Linked DNA regions of Homo sapiens. The protein of the gene in region 2 purifies or fractionates together with the protein of the main gene of each other region. This does not show direct contact. Each region holds a gene or a part of one and is shown on either strand. Other genes may lie near its edges. The genes, in order: NGRN, FASTKD2 and PTCD1.

What was found.
Region 1: the proteins of FASTKD2 (region 2) and NGRN purify together in Homo sapiens (affinity purification with mass spectrometry; 3 studies listed by BioGRID and IntAct, with this or other methods). This does not show direct contact.
Region 3: the proteins of FASTKD2 (region 2) and PTCD1 purify together in Homo sapiens (affinity purification with mass spectrometry; 2 studies listed by BioGRID and IntAct, with this or other methods). This does not show direct contact.

Annotation. Positions count from the first base shown.
Region 1 is NC_000015.10:90,260,426-90,269,048, forward strand, and holds the start of NGRN (neugrin precursor), read left to right. Parts: upstream 1-5,246; 5' UTR 5,247-5,287; coding exon 5,288-5,451; exon of another isoform or gene 5,452-5,862; coding exon 5,863-5,973; intron 5,974-8,623. Other genes in the region: tubulin polyglutamylase TTLL13, read left to right, coding at 1,581-1,766, 2,067-2,244, 2,541-2,720, 3,522-3,633, 4,295-4,542. UniProt on the Homo sapiens protein: Plays an essential role in mitochondrial ribosome biogenesis.
Region 2 is NC_000002.12:206,768,079-206,775,831, forward strand, and holds part of FASTKD2 (FAST kinase domain-containing protein 2, mitochondrial), read left to right. Parts: intron 1-2,012; coding exon 2,013-2,116; intron 2,117-3,103; coding exon 3,104-3,212; intron 3,213-3,815; coding exon 3,816-3,939; intron 3,940-4,102; coding exon 4,103-4,242; intron 4,243-6,146; coding exon 6,147-6,319; intron 6,320-7,753. UniProt on the Homo sapiens protein: Plays an important role in assembly of the mitochondrial large ribosomal subunit.
Region 3 is NC_000007.14:99,421,395-99,429,147, forward strand, and holds part of PTCD1 (pentatricopeptide repeat-containing protein 1, mitochondrial), read right to left. Parts: coding exon 7,709-7,753; intron 4,223-7,708; coding exon 3,401-4,222; intron 2,564-3,400; coding exon 2,381-2,563; intron 1-2,380. Other genes in the region: ATP5MF-PTCD1 (ATP5J2-PTCD1 fusion protein), read right to left, coding at 2,381-2,563, 3,401-4,222, 7,709-7,753. UniProt on the Homo sapiens protein: Mitochondrial protein implicated in negative regulation of leucine tRNA levels, as well as negative regulation of mitochondria-encoded proteins and COX activity. Also affects the 3'-processing of mitochondrial tRNAs.

The DNA.
Region 1 (8,623 bases), on a different chromosome or scaffold from region 2:
GGCTGAGGTTATAGCGAACTGAGACTGCATCACTGCACTCCAGCCTGGACGATAGAGTGAGACCTTGTTTCAAAAAATTAAATTAAAAAATAAAATAAAAATATTGTTGCATTATTTCATTTTCATTTGAAGAAAGCAAGCAAGCGGCCAGGTGCAGTGACTCAGGCCTGTAATCTCAGCCCTTTGGGAGGCTGAGGTGGGCGGATCAGGAGGTCAAGAGATCAAGACCATCCTGGCCAACATGGTGAAACCCCATCTCTACTAAAAATACAAAAATTAGCTGGGCGTGGTGGTGCATGCCTGTAATCCCAGCTACTCAGGAGGCTGAGGCAGGAGAATCGCTTGAACCCAGGAGGCGGAGGTTGCAGTGAGCTGAGATTGTGCCACTGCACTCCAGCCTGGGCGATAGAGCAGGACTCTGTCTCAAAAAAAAAAAAAAAAAAGAGAGAAAGAAAGGAAGGAAGGAAGGAAGGACACACGCATGCACGCACAAGCTAGTGAGTGGCAGAGCCAGGATTCAAAGTCAAGAGGTCCTGCCTCAGATTCATGCTCATAATCAACATGCTAATTGCATAGTAAGATTATGGAAGGCTTTATCTTCTTTCTGCTCTTCTAAATTTTCTGTAATGAACGTATATTACCTTTTTTTCTTGTTTTCTTTTTTTTTTTTTTGAGACTAGTCTCACTCTGTCATCTAGGCTGGAGTGCAGTGCCACGATCTTGGCTCACTGCAACTTCCACCTCCTGGGTTCAAAAAATTTTCCTGCCTCAGCCTCCCAAGTAGCTGGGACTACAGGCACACGCCACCAAGCCCAGATAATTTTTGTATTTTTAGTAGAAACAGGGTTTCGCTATGTTGGCCAGGCTGGTCTCGAATTCCCAACCTCAAGTGATCCACCCGCCTTGGCCTCCCAAAGTGCTTGCATTACAGGCGTGAGCCACCATGCCCGGCCACTTTTTTTTTTTTTTTCAAATGGAAAGCTAATATCAAAACATATGTTACTTTTACAATCAGAAACCTAAAAAACTATGATAATGGACTGCTAGCTTACGAGTAGACCCCTCTCCACTTAAGATGAAAATCAGGCCGAGTACGGTGGCTCACACCTATAATCCCAGCACTTTGGGAGGCCGAGGTGGGTGGATCACTTGAGGTCCGGCCTTGCCAACGTGGTGAAACCCTGTCTCTACTAAAAATACAAAAATTGGCCAGGCATGGTGGTGCATGCCTGTAATCCCAGCTACTTGGGAGGCTGAGGCAGGAGAACTGCTTAAACCTGGGAGGCAGAGGTTACAGTGAGCAGAGATTGTGCCAGTGCACTCCAGCATGGGCAACAGTGCAAGACCCTGTCTCAAAAAAGAAAAGAAAAGCAAATCAGATTTCTGGAAGTCAAGCCTATTTTCATGGCTACCCACATGTGGGGCTAGCCAAAGATGGGCTTGGCAGCTTTCCCTACTTGGGCAGGGGCCCAGGAGGTCAAGAAGCCAGCAGGAGGGTCTCCAAACCTTAGTCAGTCTTCCTTTCCCTACTGAACATTCCCACAGCCCTACTCTTGACTCACTGAGCTTGCTTTCCACAGGAAAGAAAAAACTGAGTCATCCCATGTGGCAATGCTGGACCAGGAACGATATGAGGATTCTCACCTGGGAAAATACCGGCGGATCTACCCTGGGCCTGACACAGAGAAGTATGCCCGCTTCTTCAAGCACAATGGCTCCCTCTTCCAAGAGACTGCTGCTTCCAAGGCCAGAGAGGAGTGTGCCAGGTACTTTGACCGACATTCTCCTCTGCACACCTAGGTGGGGACAAGTCCTGAAGCTGCATTGCTTCCCAGCAGGGAAAGAGGAAGCCAGACACCAGCAAAGAGGAATGGAGCTATAAATCCTATCAGACTCTTAGTGACTCTTTTCAGTTTAGTAGGTTTCCTATCTTCCCCTCTCATTGCTCTCGCATCAGTCCTAAGAACAGATTGTAATTTCCTGCTCTTTCCTCATCCCCATTTTTCCTCACCCCTCTTCTCCCCAACACCATTTCTCTACTGTCTGAAGCTGCTGTGTCTTGTCAGGCAGCAACTAGAGGAGATCCGCCTTAAGCAGGAACAGCAGGAGACCTCGGGCACTAAGAGGCAAAAGGCCAGGGACCAGAACCAGGGTGAATCAGCTGGGGAGAAAAGCCGACCCAGGGCAGGGCTCCAGAGCCTTTCCACCCACTTGGCTTACAGGAACCGCAACTGGGAGAAAGAGGTGCCAGGGGTTTTGTAGCTCTTATCTTTCCACAGGAAAATGGGTTGGGACAACTAGATAGGGGAATGAATCTCTGCTGTCTTCTCCTCCCCATGCACAAGAGAGAGAGGAGTTCCTAATCAGTAAATTGAATCCGATCCTTTGGAAGATGAAGTGAGAGAATGGACAGCAAAAGGAACCTTCCTGGGTCAGGGAAGGGATGAGGGTAGAGTGGGCAGGAGGCCTGTAGCCATCCTGGGTGATGGTTTGGGACTTATCCTTGGAGATCCTGCATTTATCTCTCATGTACCTTGTAGCTGCTGCCGGGACAGCTGGACACCATGAGGCCTCAAGAAATTGTGGAAGAGGAGGAGCTGGAGCGGATGAAGGCCCTGCTACAAAGGGAGACTCTCATCCGAAGCCTGGGTATTGTAGAGCAGCTCACCCGTCTGCAGCACCCTGGCCCCCAGGGCCAGAAAAAACTTCATGAGAGTCGGGTGAGGGTCCCTGTGAAGTCTCCCAGAGGAAAAGGGAACAAGGGCTGTCATTCCAGGACATGGTGTTGGTCTCAACAAAGGAGGCTTGTGTGATGGTATCTGTCAGTGGAGCCTGGGAAAGCAGAGTGCGCTAGCTGGACCTTGGGAGAGGGTCTGTTGATTCCTTTTGCGTCTGTTCCCAAGCTCCTTTGTTTTAGATATGACATCCAGCAAGTTGCAGCTCCAAACCTTCTCATTTACAGGAAACTTGCTCTCTATATTCCTGTCCCAAAATAACCCCACACTCATGACTGACAAATAACAAGCCCACCACCCTCAGTGGCTTCTGTATAATTTTCTCCCTAGCACTGCCAGTGCCCCAGCTCTAATGGGAGATAAGTAAACAGATTTGGGCCAACAAAAGAGCTGCCGCTTTCACTATTCCCTGGGCTGGTAGCAAACCTGTTGGGTCTTCTGTTTTTGTTGAACCCCAAAGGAGTATCTGGTTAAATAGTGGCCGCGGCCTAGAAGAGATTTTTTTCAGTTACCTCCTTCTTCCAACGCTCCATCCAAACTTACATAAAAATGTGGTAAGGGGCTGCTCTTCTCCTCTAGCCTAGATTTTGCTAGGACAGGCTGGGCAGTCAAGAACTGAAATCTATGAGTCTGGTCCTACTGGTGCTCCTAAGAGGGGCTGCCACAGAGCAGGGCGCTCCTCATTTCCTGCATCCAGTTCTGCCCCATGAATCAATCCCCAGGATCTTAGGGGCACTGCCAAGCATGAATGCTGCAATCCCACATGTTCCCCGGTACCATCTGCAGCCCAAGAACTTCAACTGGACAGGAGAGCCGGCAGCCATCAACTCCTGTTCATTGTCAATGAAGAAGGCTGGGAGGTGCTATTTTTCCAGTGCCAGAATCAGGCTCACTAGCCGTAAGTATGCAAAACTAGCTTTGGTCATTTTGACATATGTAAATCCCACTAGCAAGCATAGAGCTTGGATGCCCCTAAAATATAATATGGCACTTCCACCAGTGTAAGAATGGGGAAGTTAGGGTACCCATTTATTTACTCCTTTTTTTTTGAGACAAGGTCACGCTCTGTCGCCAAGGCTGAAGTACAATGGCTTGATCTCACTTCACTGCAAACTCCACTCACGGGCTCAAGTAATTCTCCTGACTCAGCCTCCTGAGTAGCTGGGACTATAGGCACACACCACCATGCTCGGCTAACTTTTGTATATTTTGTTTTTGCCACGTAGCCCAGGCTGGTCTTGAACTCCTGATCCACCTGAATCAGTCTCCCAAAGTGCTAGGATTACAGGTGTAAGCCACCGCACCAGGCCTATTTAATCCTTTCTGTACACTAGACCCTGGTGATAGAAATGGCAGAAATACAGTCCCAGCACTCAAGAGGTAATAGGAACATGGACAAAAAGACATACCATACCAATTACAATACAGTGTGGGAAAGACAGTGGAGGGAAGCATGAGATGCCCTTCCTCTGTGTTGGTAATTGGGCCACAGTTGGGAAAGAGGTGAACAAATCTCTTCTGTGAATACCAACTCAGGGACATCCATGTTTCCACTGCAGAAGGACAAGCCAGCAGAAGGCTAGAAGCCATAAACCGAGTCCTGGCAGGATCAGTGCCACCCACTTTAACCCCAAAGCAGGGCTATTTTCTGCAACCGGAAAGAGTGGCATCTGACTCATGGACTGAATGCACCTTGCCCTCCATGGTAAACTCTGAACACAGAGCAGCCAAGGTTCCCCTCTGCCCTGCGTCTGCACCCATGCTGCAGCGTTCCAGAGCACTCCTCAACATCAATCAGTTCAGGTAAAAGCAGGAGGGAAGCACTCTACCTCTCCTGGATAACCTCCCCAGGTTTCCAAAGGGCATTAAATCTTTGCTAAATGAATGACTGCCACCAAGTTCCACTTTGAAAAGCCCTGCCCAGGAACCCCATTTGTATAAGGCAAAATACAAAGACACCAAGAATTCCTCAATACCCTAAGATTAATTGGGGATCGGTAAAGACTAGAAGATGAAGAGGCGCCAAGGCCAGCCATGTACTCATTTCTGCTCATCAAGCCTTAGCCTGGGTTTATCGCTAGGTGATGGGTCTGAACCCTAGGTGCGGCCCGGGGCTGGAGGCCATCCAGGAGACAATGAGCCCCTTTCCCAGAGAAGCCGAGTGCCCAAGGCACTGGGCTGTCGCCGTCAGAAGACTGCCGAGCGGAAGCCCTGCCCACCGAGGTGGCGGAGACAGGCAGGCCTGGGCAGCCGCTGGGGCGGAGGGACGGCTCTTGGAAACGGAATCCGTACTTTAATTAAAGTTTATGCAGTTTTCCAGGAGCGTCCTGTACCTCATTTCGGCCCTCACGTTTCAGGGAAGCCCTCTCCACAGTTACAGGCAGAAAGGGTGGGCCACTGAGCAGCGTGAGCCCAGATCTTACCCCCACCAAGTGAAGCGGGAAATAACTTGCTACTACCCAGCCTCCGGCCCGCCCCTTCCACTTCCGGTCTTACCCGGCTACTTCCGCTGCTGTTTCGTAGCCGACTGCTGAAGGCTGGTTTGCGTCGACATGGCGGTTACCCTGAGTCTCTTGCTGGGCGGGCGCGTTTGCGCCGCCGTCACTCGCTGTGGGTTCGCGACCCGGGGGGTGGCGGGCCCAGGCCCTATTGGCCGGGAGCCGGACCCCGATTCCGACTGGGAGCCGGAGGAACGGGAGCTGCAGGAGGTGGAGAGGTACCGGCTTCTCCCCGGGCCCTCAGCTTGAAGCAGGGCCTCGTGCCCCGGCGCTCCAGGCCGCGCCCCCTTGGCGCCGGGTGTCCTGCCGCTGCTTGCGCAGCGGCCCTTGTTTCTTCTTACCCGTTGTTAGGGGCGCAGCGTCAGGTGTTCAGCTCCCCTGGGACCACTGGTCCCTTCATTAGTGACGTATTTCATCATCAGTTTAGAGAGTTCGGCATGCTTACAGGCAGTTATTGTTCTAGGTGTTAGCTTTCTGGGTGTACGGAGCAGCTCTAAGCCGGCAACATGGCCCGGTTGCCCTTGCGATCAAAGAGAAGAGGGCTGGGCGCTCCATGATTTAGCCTGAGGCTCTTCAAACATCCATTCTGCTTCCACGCATGGCTTCTGCCATTGGTTCTCTTCCCCCAGCACCCTGAAACGACAGAAACAAGCAATCCGATTCCAGAAAATTCGGAGGCAAATGGAGGCGCCTGGTGCCCCGCCCAGGACCCTGACGTGGGAAGCCATGGAGCAGATACGGTGAGACTCAGGATACCTTGTTTGTATCCGCTGTGATGAGAAGTGAAGGATGCTGGAGCCCAGAAACGGGTTTGGCTTTTTTGATACTGCTTTTATATTTTCGTTTACTTTTTGTCGTTGAAATTTATTATCAGAAAAGTAGAGTAATATAACGAACTTCCCTAACCCTGTCATTATCTAGATTTAATAGTGTTTTGTTTTGTTTTTTAAAGAGACGGGGTTTCGCTATCGCCTCGAACTCCAGACCTCAAGTGATTCTCCCGCCTCGGCCTCTCAGAGTGCTGGGATTACAGGCATGAGCCACTGCGCCCCGCCTGGTTTTAATAGTTTTTAACGTTATGACGTGGTTGGTTCATTTTTACTGAAATTTTTAAATAGTAAATCGCAGACATCACAACATTTAACCCTTGAATGTAGGTTGTGACGTTCCCAACCTAAGGTACAGGGATGCTGGTGCTTCCATAGGTAGGTGCATTTTTCTGAAGACAGGATCTATAATTTAGGAAAGCTTAAAAGAGTTTTTAAGTTTTTTTGTTTTGAGTAGGTAAAGTATTACATATGGCTCAACCTAACAGTATAACATGGTATACACATTGAGAATTATTTGTCCCACCCACTCTCCTGTGGGTACTTTTTTTTTTTTTTTTTGGTAGTTGGGGGTCTCACTCTGTCGCCAAGGCTGGAGTACAATGATGTGATCACCGGTCACTGCAGCCTCTACCTCCTGGGCCCAAGCCATCCTCCCACTTCGTCCTCCCAAGTAGCTGGGACTACAGGTGCATGCCACCATGCTTGGTTAATTTTGTTTATTTTTTGTAGAGATAGCCTCATCATGTTGCCCATGCTAGTCTCCAATTCCCAGGGCTCAAGCGATCATCCCACCTCAGCCTCCTAAAGTGTTGGGATTACAGGCATGAGCCACTGTGTGCAGCTGTACTATTTTTAATAGTTTTTCTCTACCAAAAACTAGGCTCTGTGCCCTGAGTGAGCCACTGCGCCTGGCCCTCAATTCTTTTTTTATAGATGGTGTTATTATATTTTTTTGAGGCAGTATATGAGGCAGTATATGACAGTGGTTTTTAATTTTTATTTAAACAATTTTTTCTCCTATTTATTTATTTGACAGAGATGGGGGTCTCACTATGATGACCAGGCTGGTCTCAAACTTCTGGCCTCAACTGATCTTCCCATCTCGGCCTCCCAAAGTGCTGGGATTAGAGGCGTAAGCCACCATGCCTGGCCAGAATGCATTATTTAACCTGTCTTTTATTGTGGGCATTTAGTTGGGTTGTTTCCATTTCTGTTGCTCACTAATAGTGCCCCAGTGAATAACTACGTATGTGTATCATTCTGCATACCTGCCAGGAATATTTGTTATATACATTCCCAGAAGTAAGGTTGCCAGGTCAAAAGACAAATGCATTTGCAATTTGATAAATATTGCTAAGTAGCCCTACATAGATTATGTACTATTTTTCATTTCCATCAGAATGACTCTGGAATTGAAATTTAAAATAAAGGGGATTCTGTAGAGCTGCTCAAGATTTTGTGAGCCTGTAGCACCTTCTGAGTCCTCAGTCAGGTCTAGCTCCTCTTTTTTTCGTTTGTTTGTTTGTTTTTTGTTTGAGGCAGTCTCACTCTGTCGCCCAGGCCAGAGTGCAGTGGCGAAATCTCAGCTCACTGCAGCCTCTGCCTCCAGGTTCAAGAGATTCTTGGACCTCAGCCTCCCAAGTAGCTGGGATTACAGGCGTGCACCACCACACCTGGCTAATTTTTGTATTTTTAGTAGAGACAGAGTTTCACCATGTTGGCCAGGCTGGTCTCAAACCCCTGACCTCAGGTGATCCACCCACCTCGGCCTCCCAAAGTGCTGGGATTACAGGCATGAGCCACCATGCCGGCCTCTATCTCCTGTCTTCAACAATAGCTTTTTCAAACCTTCCACCTTCCTACTTATCTCCCTTTATTGTGGTCAATAAATGTCCTTTTAAGAGGAAAAAAAAAAAACAGTCCATTAAGTAAAAACTTTCAGCTTCCTGGTCTTCCTCTTTGCCCACTACTCTCAAACTTATACTCTACTCCCATTTCAGAGGAAATGGGAGCCCTTCACTTGTCTGGGACCAATTCTCTGTATGCTTTAGGTCATATTTCTCCCTGCATAAGATTACTCAAGGACCTCTGTCCTCAACCTAAAGCTCTCTCTCATTCTTTTGTTCCCAGCTGGTTCCCAGGGTGCCTACCCTTTGTTTGTTTGTATCACTGCAATAAAACTGCTCTCCTTAAATCCATCAGTGACTTCCTCAGTGCTAGGCTCAAAAAGACACTTTGTAGTCCTTAGCGTCCTAAATAATTCAGCAGCATTTGCCCTTGTAAAAACTGCCTTTTAAATTAAAATATATATATATATTTTAAATAAAGACAGGATTTTGCCATGTTGCCCAACCTGGTCTCCAGTTTCTGAGCTCAAGCGATCTGCCTGCCTTGGCCTCCCAAAGTGTTAGGATTACAGGTGTGAGCTACTGCACCCAGCTGAAACTGCTTTCTCCCACCCCCCCCCCCCCATTATTTATTTATTGATTGACACTGATTCTCTCTTTTTTTTTTTTTTTTTTTTTTGAGACGGAGTCTCATTCTGCTGCCAGGCTGGAGT
Region 2 (7,753 bases):
CAGAAAAATAGGAACCAAATCATAAAGAGCCTCTTACGGCTAGCTAAGGAGTATGCATTTATCCTGTAGGCAATGGGAATCCGTTGAAGAATTTTAAGCAATGGGTTGACGTGCTCAAATTTGTATTTTAGATCACTGAATGAGTGGAAGATGTATTGGAAGAAGGTTAAAATTGGATGGAGGGAGCCATTTTTAGTCTAAAGCAAGAATGTCAGTGTCCTGTTTAATGTCACTGAAATGGTGCCAAATGTAAGGAAGGAAGGATTAGCTTGTTAATCATTTATGTTTTAAGAGTGTACACTTCTGACGTATAAACTCAGTGATAATGAAGTAATTTCTTAGCCAGGTGTGGTGGCTCACACCTGTAATCCCAGCACTTTGGGAGGCCAAGGCAGGAGGATCTCTTGAGCCCAGGAGTTTGCGACCAGCCTGGGCAACAAAGGGAGACTCCATCTCTACAAAAAATACAAAAATTAGCTGGGTGTGATGTACTTGCCTGTGGTCCCAGCTACTTGGGAGGCTGAGGTGGGAATATCACTTGAGCCTGGGAGGTCGAAGCTGCCGTGAGCCATGATCGTGCCACTGCACTCCAGCCTGGGTGACAGAGCCAGACCCTGTCTGAAAATAATAATAATAATTTTTTAAAAGACAGGAATTCCTTGGGGATAATCTGGCATATATCCTGTCTTGCTATAGAATTCAATAATTGGGTTCATAGCTATGGGAAAGTTTTTAACTTTTTACATTACTGTGATTTCCATATGTCCTTAAGGAATAACTAATTTTTATTTAGTGTATGTGTGTGTATTTGTTTAAACCACAGAATATCCCTGTTTATTTGTAGGCTGTGTATTAGTTCCTATGTAGTTATTTAAAAGTGACTAATAAATCACCTTACCTGGTCAGTGATGCTCTTACTAGATTTTGGACAGATATTTGCATCGGGATGACATCTGTGTTGGTGAGGTATGAGTAGTAGATTTTTGTAGTCAAAACATCTGTATGGATGATGGTGTCTCACTGACCTGTTGGAATAATGTAAAGACATTTTAGAGGTGAAAGGACAGTGTGCCATCAATGAATTTGCCCTTCAAACACATAGACAAGTGGTCTTTTCTTTCATAGTAGATATGGATGGAATGCTGTAAAATTGTTAAGGAAACCCTTTCATAGGAAAGAAACCTTTTTTTTCTTCTAACCATAACCATTTCTTATTATTACCTGGTTCTGACTTAAGACTTTGTGATTCATTGGTTATGTAATTTTAGCAAAAGAGCTTCTCTCTCTTCAGGCTAAGTTTCCTCAGATGTGATTTTTTGTGAGGTTTATAGACTAGTGATTAAACTGTAGAGTACTGCTAGTTAAGCTGTGTTGTTACTATTCACTTTCCAGATTATGCCCACTATTTCTGGAATCAAACTTAGTACCCTAAGTAAAGGGACCTGAAAGAAGAATCTGTGGGGTGTAGGCTTCCCTTGAGACCCAGATAGCAGTGGTAGAATGTGGCAGGAGATGTGAATCAGAAGACTCACAAGTAAAGTTTCAGCTTGATACCCAGGAAAGGATCTAGGGAAATTGTAAAGGCACAACCATTTAAGGATCTTTAGAGATGGGCTAGTTACCTTCTGTACTTCAGTAGTTCTTATATTCCTGCACTTTAACTGTTTTTGCCTTTGTAATGACCTTGAATTCCAAGAAGAGGTAAAAATAATGTTTAATAAAAGTTGTTTCAGAAGCAGTGGAATATAATAAATATCAAATGTGTTTTCAGTGATAATGGTGAAGGTAAAAAAGTGTTGATGCATAAAAGGATGTGTATCAGTCAGCTGGAAAATTCAGTAAGTATGACTTTTTATTTCCCAAAGATGCTGTTTATTGTGGACTGACTGTAGGAATTGTTGGTTTGATACTCAATCGTTTTATTCAGTACATCAGTTCAGTGGTTTTGCTTGGGTAAGATAGTTTACTATGGGCTCATCACCTGTAGTGTTTTTGTAATTATATTTCAATAGGAACGTATCAATGAGTGTGATGAGATATGCCTTTCAGTTTTGTCAACTGTTTTAGAGGCAATGGAACCATGCAAGAATGTTCATGTTCTACGAACGGGATTCAGGTGAGAACTCTCTTATGCTTTCTTCATGTGGTTTTCTTTGTTCCTCATATATCTGGAATAAAAAAATTGAGATGAAAACTAAACTCCTTTCTTGAGGGGAGGAGGGGTTGGGGAGGCTTTGTTGGTAGTTACAGTCTTTCATACCTTATTAAGCTTAAAATCCTGACTCTGGATGACATAGGCTGGAAATACTTCTCTTAGGGTCCATAATAACAAAGATGTGAGTAACATTGAAATCTAAATTAATTTATTTTAAAACATAGTACTGGCCAGGCGCAGTGACTCATGCCTGTAATCCCAGCACTTTGGGAGGCCGAGGCAGGCGGATCACGAGGTCGGGAGATCGAGACCATGGTGAAAGCCCGTCTCTACTAAAAATACAAAAATTAGCCGGGTGTGGTGGTGGGTGCCTGTAGTCCCAGCTGCTTGGGAGGCTGAGGCAGGAGAATGGCGTGAACCCAGGAGGCAGAGCTTGCAGTGAGCTGAGATCGCGCCACTGCACTCCAGCCTGGGCAACAGAGCGAGACTCTGTCTCAAAAAAAAAAAAAAAAAATAGTACTGATGCGGGGTAGGAGAGAATTGATATGTATATTTAATTCAGAATAGTTATTCGGGGACTATGTGAGGGTTGACGTTGACCCAGCTTGAAAAGGGATTTATAAAATTGATATAAATGATCTAATGTCATAGATTAGTGAGAGTAAAACTTAACTCCCTTTGACATTGACTATGCATAGGATATGTTACTATAATCTCCTGACATAATTTGTTCTTTAGTAAAGACAGCACAATAATGTGAGAGAAAATAGCACTATTAATAGATTGGGTCTCGATCTTTAACTACTTACACTCTCTCAAGCAGGTAGATCATTTCTCTGGGCTTCATAATCCTTGCCTGTAAGAAGGGGCTGGACCAAATGAAATTTTAAGATTTTTCTTCTGCTTTGAAGATTCTATGATTTTAATATTTATTGTGTTTGATAACAGAATACTAGTTGATCAGCAAGTTTGGAAAATAGAAGATGTCTTCACATTACAAGTTGTGATGAAGTGTATTGGAAAAGATGCACCGATTGCTCTTAAGAGGAAACTGGAGGTAAACACATGAATTTTCTCTAGTGGATGAGATTTGAAAAAATCTTTCTTATAACCTGCTATCACTGCCTGAAGTCAATTTTCTAGGAGGACATTGCTGGGCTTTTAGGTTTAGCTTCACTAAAGTGAATGAATAGAAGTACCCTTATATTTATTTATCTGTATATATATACATGTATATTTATTTATCTGTCTGGGTCATATTACCCAAACTTCATCCTTTTTGTTTAAAAATAAATGTTTAGGCCAGACATGGTGGCTCACACCTGTAATCCCAGCACTTTGGGATGTCAAGGGCAGGGAGATCTCTTGATCCCAGGAGTTTGAGACCAGCCTGGGTGACTGAGCAAGACCCTGTCTCTGCAAAAAAAAAAAAAAAAAAAAAAAAAATCAAAGAATTAGCCAGGCGTGGTGGTACATGCCTGTAGGTGGTGCATGCCTGTAATCCCAGCTACATGGGCGGCTGAGGCAGGAGGATCACTTGAGCCTGGGAGGTTGAGGCTCCAACCTGGGTGACAGCACAAGACCCTGTCTCAATAAAAATAAAAGTTTAATTTATTTTGTCACAGATAGTAAATTAAATTAAAATTTGTTTTTTCTTTAGATGAAAGCCTTGAGGGAATTAGACAGATTTTCTGTTTTGAATAGCCAACACATGTTTGAAGTACTAGCTGCCATGAATCACCGATCTCTTATACTCCTGGATGAATGCAGTAAGGTGGTCCTAGGTAAGAGGAATTTTTCTTTCATCATTTGCAATACCTGAGCTTCTGTTTTAGACTATTTTTGTTTTGTTTTAAAAACTTTGCTTTTATATGAAAAAAGAATAAAGCATGTTGTATTCAAAACAATCAGGTAATTTTTGTTTGTTTATTTAACTCATTCTTCAAGATAATATCCATGGGTGTCCTTTAAGAATAATGATCAACATATTGCAGTCCTGCAAAGACCTCCAGTACCATAATTTGGATCTCTTCAAGGGACTTGCAGATTATGTGGCTGCAACTTTCGACATCTGGAAGTTCAGAAAAGTGAGTACATTAACAATTTAGAATAAGCCTCACAAACTTTTAAAACACTAATTCATGTAGCATTTTAAGTATTTCTCTTTCACCTTTATAGTAGTTAAGATACCAAAATATTCCAATGCTGAATTGACTTTTGAAAAATTAGCTCCTTATTATTCCTGTCTGGGGGCTACTTGCTAATATGAATAGTCCCCAACTTAGGATGGCTTGACTTAATATTTTTTGACTGTTTGATGTTGCAAAAGCAATACGCATTCAGTAGAAACCATACTTTGAATTTTGAATTTTGTTGTTTTGCTGGGTTAGTGATATGTTGTATGATGCTCTCTTTTCATGCTGAGCAGTGGCAGCAAGTCGCAGCTCCCAATCAGCTGTGCAATCATGAGGGTAAACAATGCATATTGTATTCAATAAATTACTTGAGATATTCAACACTTTTATTATAATATAGGCTTTTTGTTAACTCATTTTGCCCAACTATAGGTGAATGTAAGTGTTCTAAGCGTGTTTAAAGTAGGCTAGGCTAAGCTATGATGTTCAGTAAGTTGGATGTATTAAATGCATTTTGACTTAAAATATTTTCAATTTATGGTGAGTTTGTTGGGATATACCCCACCGTAAGTCAAGGACAATCTGTATACTATTCTATCCTTTGGTCATCTTTCTATTTGAAACAAAAATTTGCTCTTCTTTTTCGTTTTAAAAGGGTTGTATGGGCTGGGCGCGGTGGCTCACGCCTGTAATCCCAGCACTTTGGGAGGCCAAGGTGGGTGGATCACCTGAGGTCAGGAGTTCAAGACCAGCCTGGCCAACATGGTGAAACCCCATCTCTACTAAAAATACAAAAAGTAGCCGGGCATGGTGACGTGTCCCTGTAATCCCAGCTACTAGGGGGGCTGAGGCAGGAGGACCACTTGAACCTGGGAGGTGGAGGTTGCAGTAAGCTGAGATTGTGCCACTGTACTCCAGCCTGGGCAATAAAGATCAAAACTCTGTCTCAAAAAAAAAAAAAAAAAAAAAGGGTTGTATGGTACTTTTGTTAGATATTTAGCATGATTTCCGTGTTTATACTTTGTTCTTGTTAGATTTCAAATAATAAAGATGGGTGATGTGACAGGCTTGGGGTTTTTGAAGAATAAAATGTCACTACTTAATGGTCATGTCCATTGTTTTATCCAGAGTAAAAGCCTTTAAAATCAGGAGCTGTGTTAAGAATATAAACATTTAATGAAGCACCTGGTAAAAACTTCTTTTTGCAATGAAATAGGTGATAACTGTTAGATCTCTAGGTTCAGTTTATTTTGGAGAGTAAGGTAAATATTGAGTTTACTGTGGAAATTGGTTATAGAAAGAGAAGTAATAATCCTAAGTAAGAAAGATTGAGAAGGAAATTGGAGGTGAACTTGAAAGTTTATTTTAATCATAATGTTTCAGTTCCATTTTCACTTATAGGTATGAATATTAAATATAGAAATTTTGGGGTTATGTCTTACATGTTAGAATCTAGGAAGTATTTAAGTTTGGGAATGCGAGAAGTTCAAGATTGAGTTGGTCATTTTGAAAACCTTCAGAAAAGGCATATTTAAAAGTAATTTTCAGATATGTTGTATGAAAAGCATGTAGGAAGAGATTTATTTTTAAATCAGATGGAAACGTAGAAATCATTGTATGCCCTGGTTCTCAGCTTAAAAAAGATTGCTTATTAACTTGATACCCAATTCAAGAATTAATAGAACAGATTTTGTGAGAGAAAGATGATTGTTCCTTTTCATGGAAATATTCTGTTTCAGGATATATTCTGTTGATCAGGACAGTTGAATTGCTGCTTAGATTTTTTGAGATCTAAAAAATTACTATTAGCATACTGTAATTATTATAGAGTTTTCCCTCAATTTTCTCTTTTTAAGGTTCTTTTTATCCTCATTTTATTTGAAAACCTTGGCTTTCGACCTGTTGGTTTAATGGACCTGTTTATGAAGAGAATAGTAGAGGATCCTGAATCCCTAAACATGAAAAACATTCTATCTATTCTTCATACTTACTCTTCTCTCAATCATGTCTACAAATGCCAGAACAAAGAGTATGTACTTGTTTTTTTTTACCTTTTTTATTGCCATATAACTTACAAAAAAGGTTATAAATCATAAGCTTAATGAATTATTACAAGTGAACACACCCATAGTCATCATCCATGCCAATAAATAAAACATAGTGTTCCTTACTCATTTATAAGGTTAAACAAAATTTTGTTTTATATTTGCTGCCCTTTGTCTTGTTTGTTTCTTTGTTCTTTATAATGTATTAGTTAATTCATTATAGGAGTTTGATTTCAAACCCTCCCAGCTTATCCTCGTAGCTCCTAAGTTCATAGTTTATTTTAACTGTATTAAAAAATGGAGAAATCTGTCTTTTAAAAAATTTGACTTTTTTTATTATGGTAAGAACATTTAGTAAATTTTAAAGTGTGCAGTACAATATTGCTGACTTTATTATTAATGATATAGTTAACAATATTGTACAGTGGATCTCTAGGACTTAATCATCTTGCATAACTGAAACTTTATACCTGTTGAATAGCAACTCCCCTATTTCCCCCTTTCCTCACCCCTGACAATCAACATTGTAATCTCTGTTTCTATGACTGACCTTTTTAGATACTTTATATAAGTGGAGTCATGCGGTATTTGTCCTTCTATGACTAGCTTATTTCAGTTAGCATAATGCCCTTCAAGTTGATCCACATTGTAGCATGTGATGAGATTTCCTTCTAAGGCTGAATAATATTCCATTATATGTATATATCACATTTTCTTTATCCATTCATCTGCTGATGGATGTTTAGGTTGTTTCCCTATCTTGGCTATTGCAAACAATGCTGCACTTAACATGGGAGTGCAGATGTCTCTTTGAGATTCTCATTTCAATTCTTATGAATTGAAATATATCCACAAGTGAGATCCCTGGATCATACAGGGATTCTGCTTTTACTAAGGGTTCTACTTTTACCAAATGCCTTTTTTTTTTTTAGCATCAGTTGAAATGATCATATGGTTTTTATCCTTTATTCTGTTGATATGATGTATCATATTGATTGATTTGCATATGTTGAACCATCCTGGCATCCCAGGGATAAATCCTGCTTGGTCATAATGAATAATCTTTCTAATGTATTGTTGAATTTGGTTTGCTAGTATTTTTTTTGAGGATTTTTGCATCAATCTTCATCAGAGATACTGTGCTGTAGTTTTTTTGTTTGTTTTTTGTTTTTTTTGATGTGTCTTTGTCTGATTTTGGTATCAGGGTAATACTGGACTTGTAGAATGAGTTTGGAAGTATTCCCTCCTTCTCTGCTTTTTGGAATAGTTTGAGTAGGATTAGTATTAGTTCTTCCTTAAATGTTTGGTAGAATTCAGCAGTGAAGCAGTTTGGTCCTGGGCTTTTCTTTACTAGGTAGTAGTTCTACTTTTACATTTTTCAAGGAAGCTTCATACTGTTTTCCATGCACCATTTTGTA
Region 3 (7,753 bases), on a different chromosome or scaffold from region 2:
TCCAGCCTGGGCAACAGAGTGATTCCCGTCTCTTTAAAAAAAAAAAAAAAAAAGAAAAAAGAAAATGCGGCACGGCATGGGGGCTCACAACTATAATCCCAGCACTTTGGGAGGCTGGGGTGGGTGGATCACGAGGTCGGGAGTTCAAGACCAGCCTGGCCAAGATGGTGAAACCCCGTCTCTACTAAAAAAAAAAAAAAAACCACAAAAATTAGCCTGGTGTGGTGGCAGGCTCCTGTAATCCCAGCAACTCGGGAGGCTGAGGCAGGAAAATCACTTGAACCTGGGCGGCAGAGGTTGCAGTGAGGCCAGATCGCATCACTGCACTCCAGCCTGGGTGACAGAGTGAGACTCCATCTCATAAAAAACAAAAGGAAAATGCATCTATTGCTGGCAACACAGCAGAGGGTCCTGACTTTATAATTATGCAAAAGTGATATACATTCAGTAGAAACTAACCCCGCACAAAGTCGATCCTTACAGAGTTACATCCTGATAAAACCATTGCAAAGTTGAAAAATCCTGTGTAGAATCATCTTTAAGTCAGGGACATCTGTCTGTGACTTAAATATGATATGCTTTAGGTCTATGATAGTCTTGTGACTGTCGAGTTGAACCCCTAGTGAGCCCTACGCCAGAGGGAAGAGACAATCCACTAGGAAGATATGCACAACATGTGATCAACAAAAAACCAGTACCCAGAATATATAAAAAACCCTGGAATCAATGAGAAAAGGCTTGCAACCAACAGTTCAAAGCACAGACACAGTTCAAAAATGCCCAGCTATGCCTTCAGCCAGACACAATTTCCATTGCTGTCCCACCTATTTGTAGGAAGCCCTCAAAATGGCATTCAGGCGTGACACCTGCACGGCGTTCCTGACCCCGCACCCTCTAGCTGTGTGTGTCCCTGCCCATTTACTTGTTTCCGCCCCATCCGGGCTGTGCTTCAAGCCATAGTGGCTCTCGATGCTCCGGAGATGCTCAGCACAGAGTGTGATTCGATGGACCCAAAAGCCAAACCCCAGAGCCTGATAGCCTCAGAACAGCAGGGAGAGGCTGTGGCCGTGACAAAGCAGATTCCATGACTCTGCCCTGCTCCTGCTGATACAGGAGGTTGAAAGAAATTATTTAGGCAGATAATAAGGGCAACAGAGTCCTTGGCGAAATTTCCCTTTTAATAAAAAGCAGCCCCCAAATAATTTCTTTTCTAACAAAGAGCAGCCTGAAAAATCGAGCTGCAGACATAGATAAGCAAACTGGAAGCTTGCAGGGGTAAATGCTGGCGGCTGTGCCAACAGAAAAGGGCTACCTGGGAGCCAGATATGTTCAACGTGGGGGCCCCATCTTCCCTTCTTTGTTGCCATGTGTACAGTAAAGAACCAGGCAACATGGCGATGGCCACCTGTCTGCATAATAAAAGGTTAGGGTGGGGCACCAGCTTTTATACATGCTATGTAAATGGCACACCTGGTCCAACTAATCTTTTGCGTCCTCTGTAAATCAGACACCACCTCCCCAAGCTCATCTACAAAACCTCTGCATTACACTATGGAAGTGGCAACCCACTTCTCTGGCACCTCTCTCTGCAAGGAGAGAGCTCTTCTCTTTTTTTTTTTTTCACCACCACACCGGGCGAGAGCTCTTCTTTCTTTCGCCTATTAAACTTCAGCTCTTAACCTCTTTTTTTTTTTTTTGAGACCAAGTCTCCATCTATCGCCCAGGCTGGAGTGCAGTGGCGCGATCTTGGCTCACAACAAATCTCAGGTATTCACCCCAGACAATGACACCACTTCACTGCCTGCCCAGTCCCTGAGCAAGCGACAACCTGTTTGGAGTACCCAGCAACGTGCAGGTGCTGGGGACCCAGATGAGCACAGCAGACAGCCTCTGCCTCCAGAAGCCTGATACAGGGAAGGCCAGGGCTGCCCATGAGCACATGATCCAAGACTGTAGGACACGGCATAAAGGAACAGAGTGGGAAGGGGGAGGGGAGACTTTCATCCCAGGTCAGAGCGGCAGCCAGCTGGGCATGTCTGAGGGCCACTTAAGCAGAGACCTCCAGGAAAAGTGGGTGCCACCTGAGGCAGCGGGAACACCAATCCCGAAGCAGGCAAGAGGTTGGTGGCCTCTGCGAACTGACAGAAGGCCACTGGGACAGACAGAGAAAGCAAACGCAAGGCTGAGACATGAGATGAGCCACGCAGACAGGGACTCGCAGGCTGTGGTCTACAGACTTGGGTACTGCTCCTAAGGGAAGCTGCTGGACAGTTTCAAGCATGGCAACACAATCCCAAGGGCCAGAACCGGGGTTGGGTGGTGGGGGGAGGGGGTAGCAATGGTGAAGGAGCTGATGAGCTTTTGAGCTTGGGGCACACACCCGGTCAAAGGTGGGAGGGTACTGGGCTGCAAACTCCAGCTGGCGGATGACCACTTCGTTCACCGGGACCCTGTTCTGCTTCATGTCCTTCAAGATGCTGATGAGATAGGTGTAGTTCAGCTTCCTGATGGCCGCGTTGATGAGGGCACTGTAGATGTGAGTGTTGGGGGTCACCTGGGACTTCTAGAACACAGGGACATCGTAGAATCAAGATGATGGCAGCCATTGGGACCCAGCAGCTCCCACCCTCTGTCAATCAAGCTGGCTCCCGGGACCAGCGGCCAGGGCCAGCAAGGCAAACTTGGCAGCAACAATGTGCTGAATATCCCTCTCCAGCAGGAAAGCCAAGCCCAGCCCCTCTGCTCAGCCCTAAAGAAGCTGCGGAAAAGGACGCTCGTGCTGCTCTCAGACACCGACTGACTCAGGCAGAAAATGATGTGGGAGACACCACCTCCTTGCTCCCTGGGGTGGGCTTCCTGTGACGCACGGTCACCAGGTGGTGGTTGGCCTAGAAAAGTGCAAGCCTTGGCTGGGTGAGCCCGGTAGGGTCCAGGAAAACAGCCAGAGGATGATGGACCTGGGGACACCGACAACCCAGGACGCAGCCTCTGCTGTGGTCGGATGAAATCCACGCAGCACTTCCAATGGGGGTTAGGTGGGAGGCACAGACCTCGGGGGCTTTGAAAACTGCCCACGGCCCCTCAGGAATTCTGAGAATCCCTGCCATACCTCTAGAGTGTTGGGGCCGAGGCCTGTGCCCAGCCCTGTGTCAACCCACGGCCACCTTCTTCCGGATGGGAACATCCGTGTGTCTCTACGCCCAGCCCTGAAGCACTCACTGGGGTCTGCTTCCCCCAAAATGGGACCAAAGACCAGAAGGTCATTGACCCCACTCTCTTTGCCCCATGCACAGTTCATCCTCTCCAGGTGGGGGGTCTGCAGACCCCTCAAACTTTCCTCCTGAGCTGCAGAGTGCTCCTGAGCACCATGGGTGTCCTGCCCAGGCCCGAGTCCACTCACCTTCATGTCTGTGAGAAGCTGTAGACCGTCCTTCGGCCTGTGGCACCCGATGGCCAGGTTGCAGAATGTCTGCAGGTTGGGGACGAGGCCCCTCTTTGCCAGGACCGGCAACAGCGCCTTGGCCCCCTCCAGGTCTCCCAGCTTGCTCTTCTTTCTCACCAGCGTGTTAAAGAATGTCAGGTCGGCCTCTACCTGGTGCTCATCCAGGAGGGCCAGCAGCAAGGACTCTGCAGGACTCCCGGACTCCACCACCTCGGCCAGTAGCGTGAGGGTCCTGATGTCGGGCTGCTGCCTGTGCTCTGCCATCTTGCTCAGGAAGCCCTCCAGGCCCCCTATCAAGGCCAGCCGGTCAGCTGGGGTGGTCACCGTTCCAAAGGAGACCACTGTAGGGGGAACGGCCCCGGGGGTCAGGAGGTTGACTTCCAGCTCCACGGGAGGTGGCTTCAGGGCCACTGCGGTGAGGGCTGCTGTGTGGCTGGGCTCTGCCTTAGTATCCACCTCTGGTTGGGCCTTGCCGGGCACTCTGGCTTCCGGAGGCTCTGGAGGCCCAAGTGCCTGAGAAGGTTCCAGAAACAGCTGCCTCTCCAGGGCCTCCACATGCAGCATGGCTGACATGAGGTTGCCTGCCTTGGCCTGGGCTGTCCTCCTTGGCCGCTGCCTGCTCACTGGGGGCTGAAGCACAGTCGCCTCCTCCCTGGGCTTCAGAAGCAGCTCTGAGGCCACCTGGGGGTCCCCTAGGCCACAGTCCCGAGCTGCCACCAACAGCAGGTTGTAGCTGTCCCGGCTCGGCTGTAGCCCTAGACTCAGCATCAGCCGCCACACCTGCCACGGAAGAGACAAACGTCAGCTGGGTGCTCCCATTCAGCAGCTGGGCGCAGGGCTCACGCCTGGAATCCCAGCACCTTGGGAGTTTTAGATGGGAGGATCCCTTGAGATCAGGAGTTCGAGACAAGACCGGGCAACATAGCAAGACCCTGCCTCAAAAAAATACGCCAGGCGCGGTGGCTCACGCCTGTAATCCCAACACTTTAGGAAGCTAAGGCAGGCAGACTCCTTGAGATCAGGAGTTCGAGACCAGCCCGACCAACATGGTGAAACCCCATCTCTACTAAAAATACAAAAATTATTGGGTGTGGTATTGCATGCCCACAGTCCCAGCTACTCAGGAGGCTGAAGTGGGAGAATCACTTGAACCCAGAGATCGAGGTTGCAGTGAGCCGTGATCATGCCACAGCACTCCAGCCTGGGTGACAGAGCGAGAGTGTCTCAAAACAACTGTAAAACATTTAAAAAATTGGCCGGGCCTCTCCCTCTCCCTCTCCCTCTCCCCCTCCCTCTCCCCATGGTCTCCCTCTCCCTCTCCCTCTCCCTCTCCCCACGGTCTCCCTCTCCCTCTCCCCACGGTCTCCCTCTCCCTCTTTCCACAGTCTCCCTCTGATGCCCAGCTGAAGCTGGACTGTAACTGCTGCCATCTCGGCTCACTGCAACCTCCCTGCCTGATTCTCCTGCCTCAGCCTGCCGAGTACCTGCGATTGCAGGCGCGCGCCACCACGCCTGACTGGTTTTTGTATTATTTTGGTGGAGACGGGGTTTCGCTGTGTTGGCCAGGCTGGTCTCCAGCTCCTAACCGCGAGTGATCCACCAACCTCGGCCTCCCGAGGTGCCGGGATTGCAGACGGAGTCTCGTTCACTCAGTGCTCAATGGTGCCCAGGCTGGAGTGCAGTGGCGTGATCTCGGCTCGCTACAACCTCCACCTCCCAGCCGCCTGCCTTGGCCTCCCAAAGTGCCAAGACGGCCGCCACCCCGTCTGGGAAGTGAGGAGCGTCTCTGCCTGGCCGCCCATCGTCTGGGATGTGAGGAGCCCCTCTGCCTGGCTGCCCAGTCTGGAAAGTGAGGAGCGTCTCTGCCCAGCCGCCATCCCATCTAGGAAGTGAGGAGCGCCTCTTCCCGGCCGCCATCCCATCTAGGAAGTGAGGAGCATCTCTGCCCGGCCGCCCATCGTCTGAGATGTGGGGAGCGCCTCTGCCCCGCCGCCCCGTCTGGGATGTGAGGAGCGCCTCTGCCCGGCCGCGACCCCGTCTGGGAGGTGAGGAGCGTCTCTGCCCGGCCGCCCCGTCTGAGAAATGAGGAGACCCTCTGCCTGGCAACCGCCCCATCTGAGAAGTGAGGAGCCCCTCCGCCTGGCAGCCGCCCCGTCTGAGAAGTGAGGAGCCCCTCCGCCCGGGAGTCACCCTGTCTGGGAAGTGAGGAGCGTCTCCGCCCGGCAGCCACCCCGTCCGGGAGGGAGGTGGGGGTCAGCCCCCGCCAGGCCAGCCGCCCCGTCCGGGAGGGAGGTGGGGGTCAGCCCCCCACCCGGCCAGCCGCCCCGTCCGGGAGGGAGGTGGGGGTGGTCAGCCCCCTGCCCGGCCAGCCGCCCCGTCCGGGAGGTGAGGGGCACCTCTGCCCGGCTGCCCCTACTGGGAAGTGAGGAGCCCCTCTGCCCGGCTAGCACCCCGTCCAGGAGGGAGGTGGGGGGGTCAGCCCCCCGCCCGGCCAGCCGCCCCGTCCGGGAGGGAGGTGGGGGGTCAGCCCCCCGCCCGGCCAGCCGCCCCGTCCGGGAGGTGAGGGGCGCCTCTGCCCGGCCGCCCCTACTGGGAAGTGAGGAGCCCCTCTGCCAGGCCAGCCGCCCCGTCCGGGAGGGAGGTGGGGGGGGTCAGCCCCCCGCCCAGCCAGCCGCCCCGTCCGGGAGGTGAGCGGCGCCTCTGCCCGGCCGCCCCTGCTGGGAAGTGAGGAGCCCCTCTGCCCGGCCACCACCCCGTCTGGGAGGTGTGCCCAGCGGCTCATTGAGAACGGGCCATGATGACAGTGGCGGTTTTGTGGAATAGAAAGGGGGGAAAGGTGGGGAAAAGATTGAGAAATCGGATGGTTGCCGTGTCTGTGTAGAAAGAAGTAGACATGGGAGACTTTTCATTTTGTTCTGTACTAAGAAAAATTCTTCTGCCTTGGGATCCTGTTGATCTGTGACCTTACCCCCAACCCTGTGCTCTCTGAAACATGTGCTGTGTCCACTCAGGGTTAAATGGATTAAGGGTGGTGCAAGATGTGCTTTGTTAAACAGATGCTTGAAGGCAGCATGCTCCTTAAGAGTCATCACCACTCCCTAATCTCAAGTACCCAGGGGCACAAACACTGCAGAAGGCCGCAGGGTCGTCTGCCTAGGAAAACCAGAGACCTTTGTTCACTTGTTTATCTGCTGACCTTCCCTCCACTATTGTCCTATGACCCTGCCAAATCTCCCTCTGCAAGAAACACCCAAGAATGATCAATAAAAAAAAAAAAAAAATTGGCCGGGCGCGGTGGCTCACGCCTGTAATACTAGCATTTTGGGAGAGCAAGGCGCCGGATCACGAGGTAGGAGAGCGAGACCATCCAGGCTAACATGGTGAAACTCTGTCTCTACTAAAAATACAAAAACAAAATTAGCTGGGCATGGTGGTGGGCGCCTATAGTCCCAGCTACTCAGGAGGCTGAGACGGGAGAATGGTGTGAACCCAGGAGGTGGAGCTTGCAGTGAGCCGAGATCATGCCACTGTACTCCAGCCTGGGCGACAGAGCAAGACTCCATCTCAAAAAAAAAAAAAAAAAATTAAAAACATTAAAAAGAAAAAGAAAAAAAAAGCTCTCCAGCGGGGAGCTGTGGTTCACACCTGTAATCCCAGCACTTTGGGAGGCCCAGGCGGGCAGATCACATGAGGCCAGGAGTTCAAGACCAGCCTGGTCAACATGGTGAAACCCCGTCTCTACTAAAAATACAAAATTAGCTGGGCGTGGTGGCGGGCGCCTGTAATCTCAACTACTCGGGAGGCTGAGGCAGGAGTATCGCGTGAACCTGGGAGGCGGAGGTTGCAGTGAGCCAAGATCGCTCACTCCAGCCTGGGCAAGAGTGAGACTCCATCTCAAAATAAATGAATGAATGAATGAATGAATGACTCCTGGGTTGCACCTGCAGAAGTGCTAATGGGGGTGTGGGAGGGTTGAACAAGTCCCCAGGTGAGTGTGTGGCAGGCTTTCAAGGAAGGTGAGTTTAGAGGGGCTAAGCCGACTGCAAAGCAGGGTGGGAGGGGCGGGGGCCACCCTCATTCCATCTCCAAGGGCCTCCTCTCCCTGCCATCTGTAGAATGGAGGCTACAGTGGCTGCTGGGTTTTCAGAAAAGAGCACAGATATAAAAATACTCAGCACAGGGCCATCGTGGGTGCTCACAGGATCACCATTTTGCACCTCTGGCACCGGGGAAGCAGGGCAGGAAGGTGGGGTGGGAGGGACATACCTGGAGGGCGTACCGGAAGCCTGTCTTCTTGTCTTGGATGCAGCC